Homo sapiens: one gene and its partner. Each later gene encodes a partner of the first gene's protein in a complex. Each region holds a gene or a part of one and is shown in the gene's direction. Other genes may lie near its edges.

Evidence for each region.
Region 2: the proteins of MMAA (region 1) and MMUT are in contact, whole or in part, in a crystal structure (PDB 8GJU), measured with the Homo sapiens proteins. Residues at the interface, in NP_001362573.1 of Homo sapiens: Arg98, Ala99, Ala102, Glu103, Thr106, Glu109, Ser110, Thr111, His112, Ser182, Ser186, Gly187, Gly188, Ser189, Leu190, Leu191, Lys194, Thr195, Met197, Thr198, Ser201, Arg202, Met204, Tyr207, Ile208, Arg209, Pro210, Ser211, Pro212, Arg214; in NP_000246.2 of Homo sapiens: Lys496, Glu609, Arg610, Glu611, Gly612, Arg613, Arg614, Arg616, Ala635, Thr636, Ala639, Asp640, Gly642, Phe643, Asp644, Val645, Asp646, Ile647, Gly648, Pro649, Leu650, Phe651, Gln652, Glu656, Gln659, Gln660, Val662, Asp663, Ala664, Asp665.

What each region holds. Positions count from the first base shown.
Region 1 is NC_000004.12:145,636,378-145,643,402, forward strand, and holds part of MMAA (methylmalonic aciduria type A protein, mitochondrial precursor), read left to right. Parts: intron 1-1,222; exon of another isoform or gene 1,223-1,323; intron 1,324-2,697; 5' UTR 2,698-2,762; coding exon 2,763-3,201; intron 3,202-5,985; coding exon 5,986-6,108; intron 6,109-7,025. UniProt on the Homo sapiens protein: GTPase, binds and hydrolyzes GTP. Involved in intracellular vitamin B12 metabolism, mediates the transport of cobalamin (Cbl) into mitochondria for the final steps of adenosylcobalamin (AdoCbl) synthesis.
Region 2 is NC_000006.12:49,460,231-49,467,211, reverse strand, and holds the start of MMUT (methylmalonyl-CoA mutase, mitochondrial precursor), read left to right. Parts: upstream 1-3,958; 5' UTR 3,959-4,109; intron 4,110-6,981. UniProt on the Homo sapiens protein: Catalyzes the reversible isomerization of methylmalonyl-CoA (MMCoA) (generated from branched-chain amino acid metabolism and degradation of dietary odd chain fatty acids and cholesterol) to succinyl-CoA (3-carboxypropionyl-CoA), a key intermediate of the tricarboxylic acid cycle.

The sequences.
Region 1 (7,025 bases):
CTTCGTGTCACTGCTTCTAGAGTTATCTCTTCAAAAGCAAAGTTGATTATGTCACCTCCAAAAAGGTCTCTGTCATTTGTCCACTGCCCACAAGACAAAATTTAATTTCTTGACCTCAGTTTACCTCCGGTCCAGCCTCATCTCCTATCAGTAGTTCCATATACCCTAGGCTTCTGCCTTACTGAATTTCTTAATTTTCTCTGAGATGACAGGGAAGAGACCAAGTCCCAACTCTGATTTTGCACATTTAAGTCCTCAGACTGGAAAGCCTGCCTCAACCTTCTTCAACATTTTTGTTATTTCAGACTCGGTCTTGACTTCAACTCCTCTGTGACTTGAATTCCCCAAGGAGAGTGAGCTCCTGTAATCTTGTCTGTGCCCATGGCACTTTGTTCTTTCTTTGATGTCACGTATTTTATTCTGTGAGCTCTTGAAGTGCTAGGATTAGGTTATTTAAGATAAGATAATGAACGAGGCATTGTACCTAAGAAAGTGTAGCAGGTCGAAAGATGGCCTTCAAAAAGATATGTCCACATCCTAATCCCTGGAACCTGTGAATGTGGCCCTATTTGGAAAAAGAGTCTTTGCAATGTAATTAAGTAACTAATTCTGTTACAGTAATTATGGTAATTTGTTACAGCAGCCATAGGGAACTAATATATTAATAGAAGGTTATGGTATAATGGCTGGAACATAATCAAATACTATTGTCATCACCATCAGTACCATTGCTATAGTCACCATTACTCTTATCACCTATCATGGGACCTGAAAAGTAGTATGTTCTTAGAAAATAGTGGTTGAATAAAAATACAGTTCTTGCCTGTGGGATTCCAGTCTATTGGTAGTGGTAGTGCTGCTGATGAGAATTGTGCTTAAAGGTGGTATTGAAAGAGAGCTTCCAAAGTAGACTCCCTCTTAAAGTTTTGTTTTAAATGTCTTTTTGTGTGTTTGTGTGAAAGGTGACATTAGATCTTTTAAAATTGTTTTTTAGAAACACTTTTATACATTTTTAATTGTCCTTTTAGAATAAGGCTAATTTTGTACAAATAGACATTATAATGCACCCCCCACCCCACCGCCCCATAGAGAAAAAGTTGTTGTTTTTGGAAAACTGATGAGCACTTATAGTTCTACCAGTTTAAAAAATCTTAAACTATTCTTTTTTCCCTAATAGAATGTTAAGAAGCTAAAATTAATTTCATGTTCATCGGCCTTGAAGTGCCATTTACAGGTATACCTTGGAGCAATAATTTATTCCACCATGCCACAAGGTGCTTGAAAATCAACCAAAATTTACAAATACTCATAAACCCAAACTGGGTGAGTTATATATAACTGTAAATTTTAGTTTGCTACTGGAAGAATTATTACCAGTGTTTCATAACTTGGTGTAATTAAAATAAAAGCTAAGGTTAATTGAGCTCTTACTGCATGGTAGACACTGTTCTAAGCTTTTTACAAGAATTGTCATTTTGCTCTCACAACCACTCTGCTTTCTTACCTATTCTCTTTACTCAAGAGGAAGCTGAGGCACAGAGTGGTCAAGTAACTTGCCTAAGGTTATTTTGGCTTAAGTGGCAGAGATTCATAGTGACCGCGGCTCATAACCTCTGCACTGCCCTGACTCGGCATACCATGTCAACTTTCATTTTTTAATACAATTTGAAGTAGAGAATATCAGTATATCATCATAAAAAAGATCCTTATGGCCGGGCGTGGGGGCTCATGCCTGTAATCCCAGCACTTTGGGAGGCCGAGGCGGGCGGCTCACGAGGTCAGGAGATCGAGAGCGTCCTGGCTAACACAGTGAAACCCTGTCTCTACTAAAAATACAAAAAATTAGCCGGGCGTGGTTGCAGGTGCCTGTAGTCCCAGCTACTCGGGAGACTGAGGCAGGAGAATGGCGTGAACCCGGGAGGCGGAGCTTGCAGTGAGCCGAGATGACGCCACTGCACTCCAGCATGAGCGAGAGAGTGAGACTCCGTCTCAAAAAAAAAAGATCCTTATCTAATTTCGTAGTGGTTCAAACTTTAGTGTGAATCTACAGGGATTCTGATTAGTGGGGCTGGGAATGTGCATTTTAAATAAGCACCCAGGTGGCTCTGACTATGCTTTGAGATACACCTACAGTTCACTTATGGCTTGTTTGTGTGCTTTAAGTTAGGCTACTCTTTGCATACATCTGTGTTCAAGGATGAGTCTACTGAATACAAACATGTATCTAAACTTACACCTGAAGTGCCCACCGTAGTAATCACATTTCTTTTTGTAGAGAGTGAATACAAGGCCAGCATCAGAGAGATTCATTTTTTTTTTTAACCTTTTGTATGAGCTTCAGAATCTGGTGTATTGACCTGAGGAAACTGTTAAGACGAATTTAAGAGAAAGCATAACATAAAGTTTCTACCCTAGTGGTATTTTATATATTGTTTTTATTAGAAGAAAAAGTGTAAATTCCACTTCGCAGTAGAGTAGTAGTTCCATTATTCGGGTTACTCTGAATATTAACTGTGGCCATGGAGGGAGTCTTCTCTTTTAAGTTTATTTAGTAAGAAAACTTTCACCCATTTGTACTACCAAAAACTCTGATTATGTGTGGTTTAGAATATGGGGGAAACACTAGGCTTTCAAATTTTACTACTTCAGTATTTTAGTTATATATCGAACTGGCTAACATGTTTTTCTTTCTTCTAGGGAGGTCACAATCACATTGAGCCAAAACGCATCCAGTGTTTTCTCCAGTTACAAATAAAACGAATATGCCCATGCTGCTACCACATCCTCACCAGCATTTCCTAAAAGGCCTTTTAAGAGCACCTTTCCGATGTTACCACTTCATCTTTCACTCAAGTACTCATCTCGGATCAGGAATCCCATGTGCTCAGCCGTTTAATTCTCTTGGACTCCATTGTACAAAGTGGATGCTGCTGTCAGATGGCTTAAAGAGAAAATTATGTGTACAAACAACCTTAAAGGACCACACAGAAGGACTTTCTGATAAAGAGCAAAGATTTGTGGATAAACTTTATACTGGTTTAATCCAAGGGCAAAGGGCCTGTTTAGCAGAGGCCATAACTCTTGTAGAATCAACTCACAGCAGGAAAAAGGAGTTAGCCCAGGTGCTTCTTCAGAAAGTATTACTTTACCACAGAGAACAAGAACAATCAAATAAAGGAAAACCACTAGCATTTCGAGTAGGTCAGTCTTTTTTGTGTGTTTTCTCAGTAAATATTTTTACAAATTCTCTGTATTCTGTTTTTTAAAAAAAAGTCTAAATAGTTTGCAATCGAATGGCGACTTTTTTCACAATATTTGGATGAATTTTAAATGAGTTTTCCTGGCAAATATTAGTTTTGTTAAGTTGAAAAAATTGCCATGACATTTGAACCAAGGCTATGTATTTTAAGAAAATAATATAAGATTTTTACTTTGGCAAGAATCTTGCTCTGGATCCCAGGACAGAAATATTCATAGGAAGAACTACTAGTGAGTTTACTCCTTTTTCTTTTAGTAGTCCTTCTGCTTAAATAGTTTAAAGTGAATTCCCTGTTTTGTTGTCGTATCAACTATAATTATCACGTTTGAAAATTCTGCCTCTTAGGTATTTCATTAGTCTTTCTATAGGCAAGTCTCACTTCCTTCAGGTACTTTTTATTGAGTTTCTCGGAGTGACTGTAAACCCAGCCTTCTCAATACCAAAATGTATTTTATTTATTTTTATTTTTTATTTTTGTACTTTATTTTTTGAGACAGTCTTGCTCTGTCGCCCAGGCTGGAGTGCAGTGGCGCGATCTCGGCTCACTGCAACCTCTGCCTCCTGGGTTCAGGTTCATGCAGTTCTCCTGCCTCAGCCTCCCGAGTAGCTAGGATTACAGGCATGCACTACCATGCCCAGCTAATTTTTGTATTTTTAATAGAGACAGGGTTTCACCATGTTGGCCAGGCTGGTCTTGAACTCCTGACCTCAAGTGATCCACCCGTCTTGGCCTCCCAAAGTGCTGGGATTACAGGCATGAACTACTGTGCTCAGCTATTTTTAGTCTCACTCTATCACCCAGGCTGGAATGCAGTGGTGATCATAGCTCTGACATCATGCTTGGCTCCAATATCATGCCTCCAACATCATCCTTGGCTAATTTTTTTTAGAAGTTTTTTGTAGAGATGGGGTCTCATTATGTTGCCCAGGCTGGTATCAAACTCCTGGGCTCAAGCAGTCCTCCCACCTTGGCCTACCAAAGTGCTGGGACTACAGGCATGGGCTACCATGCCCAGCCTATCAAAATGTACTTTAAGAAAGAGATCATATTTATTTATTGTCTGTATATTAGATGTTCATTTGATTTCTTGAACAATTTGACTTGGTTCTGAAATTGTTTTTGAAATTGTGCATTGTAAAACAATTTAGATATGTTTGACCAGCAGGAATTAAACAAGCCAGTTTAGGTGGAATGAGAATGTCCCACGGTGGTGAACTAGGTGATTTGAACCAACCCTCGTGCTAAAAACAACTTGTCTTGGTGGTTAAAGTGCAAAAATTTTGTGGAGAATGAGTAAATACTTTTAAAATTTCATGTTACATTACACCTTTGTCTCACAGTTTATTGGCAATGCAGACACAAAAGCCTCCTAGTTTTTAGGTTAATGGGCATAGATGCTTTAAGATAATTTCAAAATAGCTCACCAACCAATATTTATACCAGTCCCCATTTTTCAGACTTCTTAATCTTCTGCCCTTACTGAGGGATTCTCATTTTGAGAGTACTACCTTGGATGTTAATAATCTTTATGTATGGTAAACAAAGATAATAGCAAACTCCCGCAGAGAAATTCTAGGTATGACAAAGTGCCTACTTACTAAGATTTTAGAGAATCTGTGAAAAAATGTCTCAGAAATGTGTGGAATTAACTAGCAGTTCACAGATAACTTTGTAGTGCTATTCCAGTTCTTCCATCTTGATCTTATGAGGCCAGATAAACCTGTCTTTATTGCAGTTATTTTTTTCACCACCATAAGTAAAAGCAACAAATGTTTATTCAGCACCTAAAAAGGTGTTTAAGATAGTATTGGATCTGCCCCAAGAATTGTGGTAAAGAGTCAGGCATCCCATACACTATACATATTTTGAGTGTAGTTAGTTAAATGTCTATGTTTTATATATTTCATTTAACATACACTTATATGTCTCTTATGCCATGCACTGTTCTAAACATATTGCAGACATTAACTCATCTAATTCTTAAAACAACCTGAAGAGAGAGGTACTATTACTATATCTATTTTATTGCAGTGGACACTGAGGCATAGAAAGAGGTTAAGTAATTTACCCAAGATCACATAGCTCGTGGGAGGCAGAGCTAGAATGAGAACTGGCTGCGTGGCTTCAGGGTTTGTGCTCTTACCGGCCGTGCACTGCCAACTCTCCAAGTGGGGGAGTTTTCTGCTTTTCTTAACATAAATTATTTTTTTCAGAATTCAGTTTATATTCTTTGAGTTATGAGTGAGATGAAGAAAAAAGATGATCCCTTATAAATAGAAAATTGCTTTCTCAATCACTGGGAATTTCTAGAATAATGAGTTGTTTTTCCAGTGGGAAGAAGTATACAGAACTGAGGTAGGTAGAATAATTACTGATCATGATGAGAGGTGGGCAGATGTAGAAACTGAGCACATTAACAATGGAGACAATGAAGTCTGTCCAGAAAGATCTACTTTATAGTACAAAGGCAAAGCATGTTTTGTAGTTTTTAAAAGTGAATTTTGTGAACATTTGGAACCCAGGGTGTTTCCTTCCTATAGCCCCATTACTCAGGAATTAAAGAAACAGATTTTTATTTGCCATTTTAGGACATGTTGAAATATATTAATTGTGGTTTTAATACATTAGGGGAAATAGAAGGTAGTCTAATATTTTACTCAGTAAAACTGATCGTAGTTCTGATTTCATTTGTTTCATTGAATTAGAAGATCTCTTTCCACCGTAGGATTGTCTGGGCCCCCTGGTGCTGGAAAATCAACATTTATAGAATATTTTGGAAAAATGCTTACTGAGAGAGGGCACAAATTATCTGTGCTAGCTGTGGACCCTTCTTCTTGTACTAGTGGTGGTAAGTATGGCTGATTCTTTTTCAATTGCAGAGGTCTGGGGGCTTTCTGTTACAATTTAGTAGGAATTGGCACAGTTGGGTGACCTCTAACTGCTAGCTAAGTTTGGTCTCGCTAAAGGAAGGGAGTTCTGCAGAGTTAGGTGGAAGCTGAGAGAAGTAGTTTGGGAGTGTTGTACTCCTCAGAGGAGGCCAGCTTGTGGATAGCTCAGTGGGCACTCAGAAAACTGCGACAACAGGTGCCAGAAGTTGAAGATGATCAAATGCAAATTTCAGTCCTTCAGCTTCCATGCATAAGGCCAGGCCCCTCTTTGCTCCTGTTGTGTTTCCTGGCTGCATTAGCACCTGTGCAATTCAGAAAATAGGTCCTTACTCATGTGTCATTTTCCTCATAATGTTTTAACATCTCTTAAGCTTTAGAAAAACCTTACTGCTGTTTATAATTGTCAACTGTTTATATAATATGTTCAGTTAAACAGAAAGCTCTTAGAGGGGCACTGTAATATACTGCCATTCCCCTTACAGTATTTAGCATAGTACATTGTACGTTGCACAGAATGTTAAGCAGTTACTTTCTGATTTGATGTCATGAAGTCACTCAAAGTTTAATTTGCAGCTCATCAGCGATAAAATGAATATAAACTTAGTTCCCCAAAGGATCATTTAAAGAAAACAGAAAGCATACCATATAAACAGGAAAGGTTTTTTCTTCCCTTACCCCTCTTTATGATTTAAGCTTTTCATATTACAGTTACTCACTTAGCAAGTATTTGAGTGCCTACTATAGGTGAGGCATTGTACATGGAAGGTTCTTAAACTGTGTTATATAATGGTGAACAAGATACAGTCCTGGCTTTAGTGAGGTTTACATCTTATGCAGGAAACACAAACACAGGCCATTACAATACAATGTGTGTTGT
Region 2 (6,981 bases), on another chromosome or scaffold:
GGTCTAACAGAGTTTGAGAAGTACTGTTAACAATGAAACCTACTTGAGGCACTAGACTATAGCACAAAGTTTCTCAACCTCAGCACTATTAACATTTTAGATGGATCATTCTTTGTTGTGGAGACTGTGGTGTGTATTGTAGGATGTTTAGCAGCATGCTTGGGTCTACGTAGACCGTCAGATGCTAGAATACTTCCAACCCCTGAGTAGAGCCAATCAAAATTGTTTCCAGACATTGCCAAATGTCTCCTGGGTCAAAATCAACCCAGGTTGAGAACACTACCATAATGGTTAAGAGCAGTCCTGCAACGAGGGTAAATTGTTCAAGCTCCAAATCTAGCCCTGCCACTTAATTAACTGTATATCTTTGGGCCAGTAAATTAACTCATTTTCCCCATTAGTAAAACGATTAATAAAAGTACTAACATTAAAGGCTTTTGTAAAGCAAAAATGATGTAACAAAGAATATATAAACCACCTAGAACGGTATTTGAGACATAGTAAGAATCCAATAAACAAAAGACATTGTTTCTATCACTTCTGGGCTACTCACAGTGCATATAAAAATGAATAGGTATTTTGTCCCATTCTTAGATCCAAGGGAAACCACAGCTTAGTGATAGTGCACAGGTAGAGACAGATATGAAAATAATTACTATGTGTATTTATAAATGTTATAAAGAGGCAAGTGAGCGAATGACTGTCTTAAACTGGTTTGTGCTATGGGTAAGAATGTACAGGCATAACTCTTTTTATTGTGTTTCACTTTATTGAGCCTCGCAGACACTGTATTTTGTTGTTGTTGTCTTACAAACTAAAGGTTTGTGGCAAGCCTGCACTGAACAACTATATTGATGCCATTTTTCCAACAGATTGTGCTCACTCTTCACATTTCTGTGTCATATTTTGATAACTCTCACAATATTTCAAACCTTTTCATTATTATATCTGTTATGGTGATTGATGTTACTCTGTAATTGTTTTAGGGCACCATGAACCATGCCAATATCAGACAGAGAACTTAATAGGTAAATGTTGCGTTGTGTTTTGACTGCTCCACCAACTGGCTGTTCCCTGCCTCTCTCCCTCTCCTTAGGCCTCCCTATTCCCTGAGACACAATGATATTGAAATTAGGCCATTTAATAACCCTACAATGGCCTCTAAGTGTTCAAGTGAAAGCAAAAATCACACCTCTCTCACTTTAAATTAAAAGCTAGAAATGTTTAAGCAAGGTGAGGTAGGCATGTCAAAAGCCAAGATAGGCTGGAAACTACACCAGTTAGCCAAGCTGTGAATGCAAAGGAAAAGTTCTTGAAGGAAATTTAAAGTGCTATTCCAGTGAAGACATGAATGATAAGAAAGCAAAAACAGCCTTATTACTGATAGGGAGAAAGTTTGAGTGGTCCGGGATTGAAGATCAAACTAGCCACAACACGCCCTTAAACCAAAGACGAATTCATGGCAAGGTCTTAACTCACTTCAATTCTATGAAAGCTGAGAGAGGTGAGAAAGCTGTAGCAAAAGAGCCTGAAGCTAGCAGAGCTTGGTTCCTGAGGTTTAAGGAAGTAAGCTATCTGCATAACATGAAAGTACAAAGTGAAGCAGCAAGTGCTGATGCAGAAGCTGCAGCAAGTTATCCAGTTCTAGGTAAGATAATTGATGAAGGGGCTACACTAAACAACAGATTTTCAATGAAGACAAAACAGCCTTCTATTGGAAGATGCTATCTAGGACTTTCATATCTAGAAAGAAGTCATTGCCTGGCTTCAAAGCTTCAAAAGACAGGCTGACTCTCTTGTAGGGGCTAATATGGGTGGTGACTTGAAGCCAATGCTCATTGACCATTCTGAAATATCCTAGGGCTCTTATTCTTTTAAATCTACTCTGTCTGTGCTCTGGAAATGGAAGAACAAAGCATGAGTGACAGCACATCTGTTTACAGCACGGTTTACTGAGTATTTTAAGCCCATCTTTGAGACCTACAGCTCACAAAAAGATTCCTTTCAAAATAATACTGCTCAATGACCACGTACTTGGTCACCCAAGAGCTCTGATAGAGATGTACAAGGAGATTAATGCTGTTTTCATGTCTGCTAACACAACATCCATTCTGCAGCCCATGAATCAAAGAATAATTTTGACTTTCAAGTTATATTATTTAAGAAATACATTTTGTAAAGCTATAGCTGCCCTAGACAGTGATTCCTCTGATGGATCTGGGCAAAATAAATTGAAAACTTCTGGAAATGATTCACCATCCCAAATGCTAGTAAGAACATTCATGATTCACGGGAGGAGGTCAAAATATCAACATTAACAGGAGTCTGGAAAAAGTTGATTCCAACCCTCATGGATGACTTTGTAAAGGTCATGACTTTGTTCAAGACTTCAGTGGAGGAAGTGATGAAAGATCTGGTGGCAATAGCAAGAGAAATAGTGGAGCCTGAAGATGTACCTGAATTGCTGCAATCTCATGATAAAACTAGTGGAAAAGAAGTTGCTTCTTATGAATGAGCGAAGTTCTTGAGATGGAATCTACCCCTGGTGAAGATGCTGTGAATATTCTTGAAATATCAACAAAGAATTCAGAATATCACAAAACCTTAGTTGCTAAAGCAATGGTAGGGGTTAAGAGGATTTACTCTAATTTTGAAAGAAGTTCTACAGTGGGTAAAATGCTTTCAAACAGCATCACATGCTACAGAGAAATCTTTAGTGAATGGAAGAGTCAACTGCTGTACAAAATTCATTATTTTGTTATTTTAAGAAACTGCCACAGCAACTCCAATCTTCAGCAACCATCACCCTGATTGGTCAACAGCCATCAACATCAAGCAAGACCCTCCACCAGCAAAAAGATTAGGACTTGCTGAAGGCTGAGATGATTAGTAGCATTTTTTAGCAATAAAATATTTTAAAATTACAGCATGTAATTTTTTTTTACACATAATGCTATTGCACACTTAATAGGTTACAATACAGTGTAAATACAACTGTTATATGCACTGGGAAACCAAAAAAATCGTGTGACAGGCTTTATTGGTCTGGAACCGACCCCGCAATATCTCGGAAGTATGTTTGTACATTATTCATAGAAAAAGTATTATTCTAATAACATTTTGAAATATTTAGCCAAAAAGTAGAAAAATGAAGCATCCAAGGGAAAACAGTAAAACTCGGACGGCAGGAAAGCTCGGAAAAAACACAAAAAACCTGGCGTGTTCAGGGACAGGATAATCCAGCGAGGCTTTTAATGTGTATAGGAGAAGTGAAAAGAAATAAGGCTGGTACAGTAGTTTGCCGCCAGACTATATGCTTTAGGAGAGAGGGAGGCATTCTAGGTTGTCTTGTTTTTCTTACCAGCTTGTTGATACTCATGGGACTCAATTACCTCAATTTAGACCTCTATGTGGGCACAAGAGTGAGTAGGACTCCTGGAGAAACACAGACACTAATGTCCAAGGCTGCACTTGACTTCACTAGTGCCCGCGGGAGAAATTTAGCAATGAGGATGAGCCATGAGGATGATTCGGGAGAAATAGGAAGTATTCATGGCTTTGCTCCCTCCCCCCTAATCAAACATCTCAATCTCAGGATCCTAAGGGCAGATCTTTTAGGACATCGGGCATTTCCCCGTAAGCAATCCCCCCTCGCTATCCTCAAATGCAAACTGCGGAGTCTGCCACAAACGCGTTGGCTTTAAAACTCATCCCTGAACTTTAGATCCACCCAGCCGGTTAAGGATATCACGACTCACCACTGATTCTTCTTGCACCCTTCTGAGAGCCGCGCTTAGAGTAATTCGCGCCCAAACATTCGTAAACAGAGGAGACCCGGAAGTGGGTGGGAAGAAAGCGGAAACGGGCATCTAACCCTACCCCTAAACGTCATCAGGAATGCGCCCATGAGAGCGCTATTAGATTGGCTGGAGGGAGGGCGGTGTCGGCCTACGCCCCCAGAGTCGTCCGGCTGACGCTGGCGGTGGCGCGGTTTGTGTGGGCTTGGTGAGGGCGGGGAGGCCTGGCTGTGTGGATGTCTGACAGGTGAGGCGGGGGACGCAGAAGTGCAGCCGCCCTCTCCCACAGCGGAGTCCAAAACAGGCCTACCAGTGAGTAGGACGTACACCTTTCAGATCGCTCCATTCTTCTGGCTCCTGTCCCTCCTCTACCCCTGTATTTTGAACTTTTGTCCTTTCTCTCCCGCTCTGTCCTTTACTTCTGTCTTCTTTACCTTCCTACTGTGACGGGATCCCACTCTCTGCCTTCTCCTTAGGTTTAGATTTTCACTTCGACCAACCTCTAGTTTTGGGCGAAGTCCCTGGCAATTCGGAGGTACTTCTGGAAAGAAGGTGCTTTTAATACTTTAGGGGCCATGTCGGTATCTTCTTTGGCCACTTAAGCACCCTGAACTGTTCCCGTTGGCAGAGGTCACTTTTTGTATGGTTCCAAAGGGATGCGCCTGCTTCATGGCTGCCTCCCTTCTAGGTTGTGGGTTATGTTATTGTCAGGGTTTTTCTAAGAGTTTTCGGGAATAAAAGTGATTTTCTGTGTGTAAACAGGATTAAGAGTGTAAACAGTGTTAAGAGTGAGAGGTAGAATAGAAAAGACAGGTCTAAATTGACATAAAAGCTTACATTACTAACTCGTTCTCAGTTTTATCTAGAAAGAAGGTGGTCTTAGGGAAGCTCGAAGCCCTGGATAACGTATGTGTGTAAAGTTTTAAACCACTTGATGATTTTCTGCCAATATAATTTTGTGTTTAATGATGTACTTATGCTAATATCAAATATAATTTTCATGCCCTATGTTTCCATCTCCAAACCCAACTAGTTGAACATCAAAGTACCTTCTTGAAGTATTAATGTGCAATCATACGTCAGCAGCCAAAGCTTGAAACTTATTGGTTCAAGAAATCTTTTTCTCACTGATTTGTTTTTGAGGTGTGGGGGTGGGATTAATCATTGCTCTTTAACTCATTTTAGTTGTCAGTAACATATTTGCTTTGCATGTTGCTTCTTTGAATGCTTGAGGCCTCTCTTGATGGTCTTCTGAGAAAATTCAGAGGTCGTATTGCCATCCGCAGTAGTTGTGTTTTTATCTAAAAATGGTGTCTGTTTCCAGCCTCCACCAATTCACATGTGATTTTCAGGAAGTCACTTAAACGGGGCTCTTTCCTATTAGTTGTTCAGATTTAGGAAAGCCCACGTGAAATGAGTGTGATATTTCCTGCCAACAGTTTAGTCTCAGGTGGTTTTCAAATTACCTTTTACAGGATTACTATTGAAACAGTTTAGTTGTTGCTTCATTATTTTTTTCATCCACCTTTTAAGCTAGTAAATGTAGTGGATGGCTTGCAAAAAGATGGATGACAAGGACCCCATGGATTTAAAGAATAAAAATCGTGCTAGTATTAAAAAAATGGAAGGTTTTTTTGTTTTGTTTTGAGACGGGGTCTCTCTCTGTTGCCCAGGTTGGAGTGCAGTGGCACGATCTCTGCTCACTGCAACCTCTGCTTCCCGGGTTGAAGTGATTCTCATGCCTCAGCCTCCTGAGTACCTGGGATTACTGGTGTGCGCCACCATGCCCAGCTAATTTTTGTATTTTTAGTAGAGACTGGGTTTCACCGTGTTGGCCAGGCTGGTCTTGAACCCCTGACCTCAGGTGATCCACCTGCCTCGGCCTCCTGAAGTGCTGGGATTCCAGGCGTGAACCACCATGCCCAGCCTTTTTTGTTATGTTTCCATTTAGACTTTGTTCTATGTACTTTTTACATAGTTGAACCTGTTGCACTTACAATTACGTGTCTTGAGTCTTTTACTTACTACTTTTTGAGTTTGTTTCTCTTTTTTTGGGAAACTATGCATAACACATTTTTAACTTTTTACTTATACATATATTTACAGAAACTGCATAAAACATAACTGTATAATTTGATGAATTTCCACAAACAGAATATATCTATGTAAGTGGCAATCAGATCAAGACCATTACCCCCAAAAGCCCCTCTCTTGCTCCTGTTGTATTCTAGCAACCATTAAGTAACCATTCTTCTGACTTCTGACATCAAAGATTAGTTTTGCCAGCTTTCTAAACATATTTTGATAACTACATGAAATTCTATCATTTGTATATGCTGTAATTCACTTATTCATATGTTATGAGATACTTACGATTTTCCTAAGTTTTCTCTATTACAAATAAAACTATAGGAAACATCTATTTTATATATTACTACAGAAGCTTTCCCAGGAGTAATGTTCCTCAGTGGAATGGCATAAACATTTCTGAAGCATTTCATGTATATTGACAATTTACTTTCCAAAGTAGTTAAAATAGTTAATACTGTCACCAGTGGTTTATGTCTCTTGTTTAACGACCCCATAATAAGTGTTGAGTATTGATTTCATTTAAGCTTTACTAAACTGATAGGTAAGAAGTGGTATGGAAAATAAAATTTGAAACTCCCTTTACTTGTTGCCTTATCCAGTATAAAACACATAGTATAGTGAATATATTAATGTTTGCATCTCAATATCTTTTTAAACAATGGGCTCTATATGTTTACGCTGTATGACTCTGACAAGTTTTAGTAATTCAGGTAAACAGTTTACGGCTTTGTGAGGTGGGATTTTGATCAAGCGACTTTATTTCTCTGAGCCTCAGTTTCTACATCTGGAAAATGATGACGCTGAACCCAGCAACCTAGTATAAAAGTCTATGCTAGTTATCCGGAATATGCAGCTCTAATGTTGGAGCAGTTTATAAACTAGCACAGAAGTAGATTATTGAAGAGGCCATTTAGCTCACCTTATGGGTTCTGGGATGAATTGTGTGCATATTAGTTAAATGCAAGGACTTTGAAACAGGCTGCATAGGTTCCAATCAATGCTGGCTCTTCTGTGCCTCAGTTTCCTAATCTGTAAAATAAGGATAATAATAGTACCTACCTCTTAGGGGTATTGTAAAGATTAAAATTGCTAC